Homo sapiens: one gene and its partner. The protein of the gene in region 1 purifies or fractionates together with the protein of each later gene. This does not show direct contact. Each region holds a gene or a part of one and is shown in the gene's direction. Other genes may lie near its edges. The genes, in order: PLAG1 and UGT2B7.

Region 1 (3,830 bases):
GGAGGGGGCATCTTTTCTTAAAAGGCAACAGAATCCTTTACAGATTGTGAAGGATGTGCCATTAGAGAGTCTTGAACTCTTCTTTTTTGAGAATGAGAGCCCCCTTTTAGCCTTTCACTCATTAAATATTTGAATTATTATTGCAGACCAATATTGGAATTGCACATATATATATTGATTGTGATTTCCTATCTTTTTGTTTCTGAATGTGATAATATTCTCAGAATAAGTGCTATATGTTAAAGGCTGCCATATCAGTTTTTAAAAAATTATCTCTCTTTAACCAGTGGTTAGACATTAGAGCCCTTTAACTTTAAAATACATTTTTGGAGACTGTTAAACTAGAAATCAATTAGCAAATAAGGAATTTAGCCCCTTTGGCTCAAAGGCAAAATTGGAAGGTGTCATAATCAATTTTATTCCTTTGAAGATACATTAGTAAATATTTATTGAATTGTTCTTGATCATGAGAATTTTAAGAAATTAAACCTGGAAACTTAAGATAGTTCAAGTGTACAGTTTCAAAATAACACCGGTTGGATTTTAGTCTACCAGATTTTCTCGGTAACTTGATTTTTTCTTGTATTGTCTTAATGCTGGAGTTACATAGAGCTCACGTCACTTTTCTTCATACCCTGAGAGAGTTACAATAAGTAGGTTTTATTTTTATCAACTTTGGACAATGAAGGGAAAATGCTGTTTTATTATATATGAGCACTTTCCTTTTCTTAAGCTATCTTCTGTATTTCCTAAACATAATTCATTTAAGCACTGCATTCCATTGAAGAGAAATTAGCTCCATTATTCTGTGTTACACAACTGCAACTTATGGAACAGTTGTCACTTTATATATTTGGATTGTTATGACCTTATAACCTATTATAAGCCTAAAAACAAATATTAATATAACCAGCATATCCTATTATAAATAAGCTACACCTCAAACATGAATTTGTTTTCCTTGCACCTTTAAAATTGTTTCTAAATAAATCTGAGAAAATGTTCTTCATATGTTTTGCTAATTTGTCATAGACTGAGGTAATTTAATTGTATAAATTTCAATCTAGATTTTTCTCTTCTAATGTTGGTAGCATTTTACTTGATGTTTACTATTCAATTTCATAGGATTTTAGCATTAGAATAGAAATAGATGTATAATAAAATAGGTTAATTACACCAAGAGTGGTGGAAGCAGCCCTACTAGTTATTTGGAAGATTTTTAAAATGTTTCCAAGAAGGAAAGTTTCTGTGATGATCAGGCACACCAAACAGGAGTTAGTGACATTTTATGTTTTTCTTTATCTTGCTTCATAAAACGTGAGCATTCTCAGGGCTACTGTCATACAAACAAATAACTGATTTAACTATGCTGTATGTTAAGCACATCTATCAGGTCTAGCTTTTAATGTAATTTGCTCAGTTTATTTTTAAGAAAAAGGTGTAAGACATTTTTTCAGCAATAATTTGGCATATATTACGTTTTGAAAGATGCTGTATTAAAATATATTGTCATATTTGCTTACCCAAATCAAAATGAAAGTAAACTATCAAGTAACAGGCTTAATTAGACATAGAATGAAAGCTTTAAATATTAAACTGAATAACTTGATTTACTGCTGAAATATACATAATTTTAATTCAGATAGTTGTTTTTGTATCTGAATCTACTTTTTATGCCTAGAAATTTGTAAACAAAGTACAAAATACACATATAAAATTCTGTAGACGTTCCTAAGCAGCTAGCCTTTAACAGTTAATAAATTTATTAGTTTTTTTTCAAATATGTGGTCAAAATTACTTAAAGATCGTGATATATTCAATTATTTTCATTATTCTTCAAAGAAAAGTAGTGACAAATAGGTCAGTACTTGGTTGAATGTCTGTTGTATTTAAATTCTTAATTATCAAGCATTTAATACTTTTAATGGTATTTCAATTTTTTAAGTACAGTTACAGATGTTTTTCTTAAAAGCCCTTCTTTTGGGAAAGTATAAACTAATGTCTGTACTTCCTATCTCACAATATTGCTGCTGAGAGATTGGTGACAGACAGTTATTTTAAAACTTTACTTCTGTAACTGCTTTTATTTAATATGTTCTCAAGATCATGTTATTCTTAAATTCCTATCTAGGAGCACTTTTAATCATAGCCTGGGTTATCTTTTCAGCTGTATACCAGAGATACAGTTGCTCTACTTAAACATTAGATCTCATGTGGTGCTTGAATTTAATTATTCTTAGTTCACCTTTTATCCCTCAGTGCAGGGAAAAGTAGAGAAAGCAGTTTGTTGTGGGAGAAGTGCAATTGATCACATTCAGAGGCTGACTCATAATAGCTTTTGTACAATGCATGATACTCTTCCAGAATTAAAAGAAATTTTTTAATTGAAGCCAAAATACCCGCATGTCTAAGTTTGTCCTAATCAGATTTCAGGCACACTTGTGTGCTTCCATTGGCCCTTCCAAGTGTTCTTGCTGTTTGCATGTGTTTGGTTCTCAGTGCTGCCACCCTGTGTATGGCAGTGCCTTACGTAGACTAGTTTTCTGTGCTTTTTAAAATCAAGCAATAACATCCAAAATCACTTCTGGAAAATGAGCATATGTATTAAAATTAATATAAAAGTCATTGTGGTATACTCTGGTTCTGTGTTTAATGCTGTACTAAAATCTAGATCTTTTTCAAGTTGCACAGTTCAGAAGTGTGGTCTTCAACTGCTAAGTATAAAATTCAGAAAATTTTAAAGATAAGTAACTTTATCTCATCCATCATTTCACTGAAATAAAGTAGAATTAGACTAGTATTTTAAATCTAGCTTGAAATTGATCAAATAAGAAAGCAGAGGTTCTGATCCTTTAAAGATGAGATGTTACAAAATTTTTTATTTCAGCCAAGTTTTAGTTAAAGGTTTTTCCTAGTAAAAACAAAAAAAAAAAAAAAGAGCCCAAAAAGAAACTGTTTATGTTTAAAAGAAAAAGAAACTCAACTTGATTGGTTGAATTATTCCCTGAATCGTTAGCAACATGACTTTTATAACTCTCAAAATATTTTGAGTATTAATGCTATGCTTCAGCCATAAAATACTTTGGCTACCTATCAGTCTTTGCTTTTACCTATATTATCTCATTTAGTTTTCACAGCAATCTCATGAGATAGGAATTGCAGGGATAATGTGTATGCAAGAAGCAATAATGATTTCAGAAGGAATTCTGTTACTTTTTGTAAGTAAATCTTTAGAATGGACAGACCTATAGCAGCTAATTATTATATGTTATTTGGGTAGTATAAACCTAAATTATGTCCATATTGAAGTTCATATATTTAAGAAAATTGTACATTCTTACAAAATGAAGATTTCAGGCATAGAGTTGACAGAGTAATTCGAGTTAGAAAGTGCTAAATGTCAACTTATCTTTAAGCTGTACATAAGGAATTGGGGAAATTTATCAACTTATTAAGCTAAAGGAGATTTTTCTAAAGATATAAGTATAAACTTTGTCTCATAATAAGGATCTTAAATAGGTAATTTTATTAATTTTGGCCTTAAATTTGTTGCAAAGCTGTCTGATTTCAGAATAATGAATAAACATTTTTCCCCAAATTTTTGAATGGTCTTATTTCATTAAACAATGTAATTCTACATGATGACAATTGAAAATATTGCTTAGCTTGGTTAATTTTAGATGTTAGGCTTCCAAGCTAAAAATGCCACTGATGATCTTCCCACCCAGGAGAGTTAAAAGAATTTAATACAGTATATGGTATTGTCCCAATTACTAAAGAATTCCAAGTTTCACATCTCCATTTTGTTATTCATGTAATCTCCATGGGTT
Region 2 (4,475 bases), on another chromosome or scaffold:
ATAATAGTCCAATTACACTGAGACGTCAGATTTGGCAGCAAAGAAGGAGTTTAATAATTGCAGGGCACTGAGCAAGGAGATAAGAAGAGAACCCTAAATCCAGCTCCTCAAGGAGTTCTGGGTTGGAGGTTTTAAGGAGATCATAGATGGTGATAGGCTGGAAAATTTGGGTAATTGATTAGTCAGGGTAATAGGGTAAAGTCATCAGAACAAGAAACTACATTATTTGCTGAGTCAGTTCCTTGTGGGGTCCTCTAGATCAGCTGGCATCAGTGAAGTCTTTCAGATCAGCTGACATCAGTGAGATCCTTCAGACCAGCCGAGTCAGTAGTTTTAGCAGTATGCTGGACCTGAAGGAATACCTCAAAAGGAAAGTTGATCATTTCATAATGTTTAAGTTAATATTTATAGAAGGATTAAGAGGAACTATAGTCTTGTAACAGGGTCTGCATAATTCTAGGACAACAGCCAAATAACTGTGAGGAAGTGAGTCGGAGAACAAGCTAACCTAATGATTAATGCTGAATGTACTACAAGCTTGGTTTACTTTTCTCTTTTTCTTTCTTTATCTTTGATTACTTTAACAAAGTTTAAAAAGATAGTGTCATCTTGAAACTCTCAATATCTTACATGATGGTTGTAAGAATCAACATGTATACGCTATATCATAAATGAACCTTTAAAATATTATGTTACATAAAAGAAGCCAGTCACAAAATACCACATATTGTATGATTCTATGCATTAAAAATTGTCCAGAATAGGCAAATCTATAGAGATAGAAATTCAATTAGCAATTACCTAGGACAGGGGAAATGCAGAAACTAGGGGTGGAGAGAAAAAGGCTAAGGACTATAGGGCTTATTTTGGGGAGATAAAAGGGCTCTCCAACTGATTGTTATGGTAGATGCACAATTCTGTGAATATACTATGAAACATTAAATTTTACACAATAATTGATAAATAGTATGATATTTAAATTACATGTCAACAAAGTTTACAAAAATATGTGGACCATGTTTAGTCATTTAATCTTTAGTTTTGTGTCAAATGGACTGCAGAAACAAGATCTGTCACTGCTACTGTTCTGGACACTCTTCTAAAATATATTGCATAAGACAGATGGCATGTCCATACAAGATCCTTGATATTAGCTGAAGGATAGCACTCATAAACATAAAAGGGAAATTAATCACATCTGTGTGAACAGATCATTTACCTTCATTTGTCTCTTTGCCATCCACATGCTCAGACTGTTGATTTAATGATATTGTATGTACTTTGACTTATAAGGGTTACATTTTAACTTCTTGGCTAATTTATCTTTGGACATAACCATGAGAAATGACAGAAAGGAACAGCAACTGGAAAACAAGCATTGCATTGCACCAGGATGTCTGTGAAATGGACTTCAGTAATTTTGCTAATACAACTGAGCTTTTGCTTTAGCTCTGGGAATTGTGGAAAGGTGCTGGTGTGGGCAGCAGAATACAGCCATTGGATGAATATAAAGACAATCCTGGATGAGCTTATTCAGAGAGGTCATGAGGTGACTGTACTGGCATCTTCAGCTTCCATTCTTTTTGATCCCAACAACTCATCCGCTCTTAAAATTGAAATTTATCCCACATCTTTAACTAAAACTGAGTTGGAGAATTTCATCATGCAACAGATTAAGAGATGGTCAGACCTTCCAAAAGATACATTTTGGTTATATTTTTCACAAGTACAGGAAATCATGTCAATATTTGGTGACATAACTAGAAAGTTCTGTAAAGATGTAGTTTCAAATAAGAAATTTATGAAAAAAGTACAAGAGTCAAGATTTGACGTCATTTTTGCAGATGCTATTTTTCCCTGTAGTGAGCTGCTGGCTGAGCTATTTAACATACCCTTTGTGTACAGTCTCAGCTTCTCTCCTGGCTACACTTTTGAAAAGCATAGTGGAGGATTTATTTTCCCTCCTTCCTACGTACCTGTTGTTATGTCAGAATTAACTGATCAAATGACTTTCATGGAGAGGGTAAAAAATATGATCTATGTGCTTTACTTTGACTTTTGGTTCGAAATATTTGACATGAAGAAGTGGGATCAGTTTTATAGTGAAGTTCTAGGTAAGTATTTTTTTCAATCAGTAACATGAAGCTCTAACTTATTTGTGTCTTTGAAGCAGAGCTTATATAAAGCCATAAAGTCAGGGTAGTGGGGTTTTGGTAAGTGAATTTATAAAACAAAAATACAAGATGATCTATTAATCTCACAAATATTATAGAAAAGCTTAAATTACAGGGTCAGTTAAAACCCTGTGGCCATCACTCACACAGAACACCCCAGGAAATCATAAACCTATACATTAGTGCATCTAAGACTTTAAGCAATTACACATCTGTTTTACTATACATTGTTTTACATCTTAAAAACAGTAAAATCCATCAAATAACTTCTTACTGAATGCATAGATTTAGAATGAGTAGTTACACATTTTTCTACAACTATCTATATAACTGCAGAAATTGTTTTTTCTTGTAAACTTGTTTTCTTATTTAGAAATCAAAAGATGTTCCCATATTACCAGAAGGTTTCCTTCACAGTAAAGAGAGATAATGTCTATACCTCAGATGCAAAAATCAATAAGGGCAATTTGAAGTTTCTAATGTTTCTATACTCTTTCACGAAAGAATTGGAAATCATTAATTTAAAGTCCAATCATCTTGTTGAAGTGTGAAGGTTGTTATATCTACATAGTTTTTTGAAACTATGTCTCTTTATTAGAACATATGAGACAAATTAAGGTTGAGTACAAATTTTTATTTCAATAATTTCTCAAAAATTTCTAGCTATAATGTACAAATATATTTACTTAAAAATATTATTAAGATCTTAGCTTGAATCTAAAAGAGTAGTTGGTACAAGGATTTCAGCCATACTCTCAACATAGTCCACAGTTCACTTGAACCAAAGATAAAAGAATTAGCTTAATGAGTTGTGTAAACTAGACTATTTCTTAGAAAATTATTTTTATGGGTAGAGTAGAATTAATTGATTATGGAGCTCAAAGAGTTGTTTAAATGTCCGTATGCTACTATTGAAGCTTTAAGAGAAAAGAAATTTTCTGTTTAACTTTCTATGGCTCATTTTAATAATTGTTTATGATTATGAGCATACTGATGCGACATTAGAGATGTAGCTTAACCTCACAATTCTCCTACTACTTTGTCTTTCTTATAAATACACATGGGCAAAATATGTAATACATAAAATTAAATTATATCTATATATGAATATGTGTATATATTTTTCAAAGCACAGATATTTGCCTACATTTTTGCCTACATTATTCTAACCCCTTTCAGAAATTTACCTAAAGTAATTATCTTGTGTCATCCACCTTTTTTTTTTCTATTCCTGTCAGGAAGACCCACTACATTATCTGAGACAATGGGGAAAGCTGACGTATGGCTTATTCGAAACTCCTGGAATTTTCAGTTTCCATATCCACTCTTACCAAATGTTGATTTTGTTGGAGGACTCCACTGCAAACCTGCCAAACCCCTGCCTAAGGTAAACATACTTTTGTTGGTTTTATTTTGTTGGCTTTGAATTTTCAGTAGAAATGATTCTATAGTCTTCTTTCAGAGTGTTTGACTTACACTGAAAGAAAGATGGGAAATGGGTGGGGTAAAGCAGATACCAATTAGAAACTCATGTGCACGTTAATACCATCACACGTATATGAGTTTTATGAGTATTACAAATAGAGAGGAATACTAAGGAGACTTTGAAAATAGGGTTGGTTAAATTAAAGTCTTCATTATGCAATACCTAAGAAGGTATTGGTCATCCAATCAAATAATATTTACAAAGGGATTAGCACAAAACACAGGTAAGTGCAGAATTTTCAGAGAAAAAAATAGACACAGTTTCTGTCCCCACATACCTTACATTCTACTTCAAAAGATAGAATATGTGCAAGTAATAAAAATTATATAAAAACTATTATCTGAAGGAAAAACGCAATACCAAGAAAGCATCAGTGGAGATAATAGAAAGTATCCTGCAGTCACTGATTAGTAAGATGAGAGCTGAACAATATGCAGGAATAGGTAAAAGAATGACGGGGAGAGACAGACAAAAAAAAAAAAAAAAAAAAAGAAGCAGGTAAAGTGGTCAGGACAGTTCTCAAGTCCTCAAGTTTAGTTTGCAGGGAGAGACTAAGACTCGGATGATGGTGAGAGGCAAATTAGAGCCAGATACGTATTAGGAGTTGAAATATTTATTAAGCACATTGAAAAACTACTAAAAAGATTAAGAAATAAAAATATATGAAAAGATTCTCTTTTTAAAGGAGAGCTTTCAAGATATTCAATGGATTAAATTGCAGGAGGGCCAGACTGTAAAGAGCCAACCATTCAGGAAATTTTGCAGGATTCAGGTAGCAGATGATGGAAAAGTCGACTAGAAAGTTGATAGAAATC

Evidence for each region.
Region 2: the proteins of PLAG1 (region 1) and UGT2B7 purify together in Homo sapiens (co-immunoprecipitation; one study listed by IntAct). This does not show direct contact.

Annotation. Positions count from the first base shown.
Region 1 is NC_000008.11:56,201,068-56,204,897, reverse strand, and holds part of PLAG1 (zinc finger protein PLAG1), read left to right. Parts: intron 1-3,830. UniProt on the Homo sapiens protein: Transcription factor whose activation results in up-regulation of target genes, such as IGFII, leading to uncontrolled cell proliferation: when overexpressed in cultured cells, higher proliferation rate and transformation are observed.
Region 2 is NC_000004.12:69,095,128-69,099,602, forward strand, and holds the start of UGT2B7 (UDP-glucuronosyltransferase 2B7 isoform 1 precursor), read left to right. Parts: upstream 1-1,346; 5' UTR 1,347-1,393; coding exon 1,394-2,114; intron 2,115-3,412; coding exon 3,413-3,561; intron 3,562-4,475. UniProt on the Homo sapiens protein: UDP-glucuronosyltransferase (UGT) that catalyzes phase II biotransformation reactions in which lipophilic substrates are conjugated with glucuronic acid to increase the metabolite's water solubility, thereby facilitating excretion into either the urine or bile.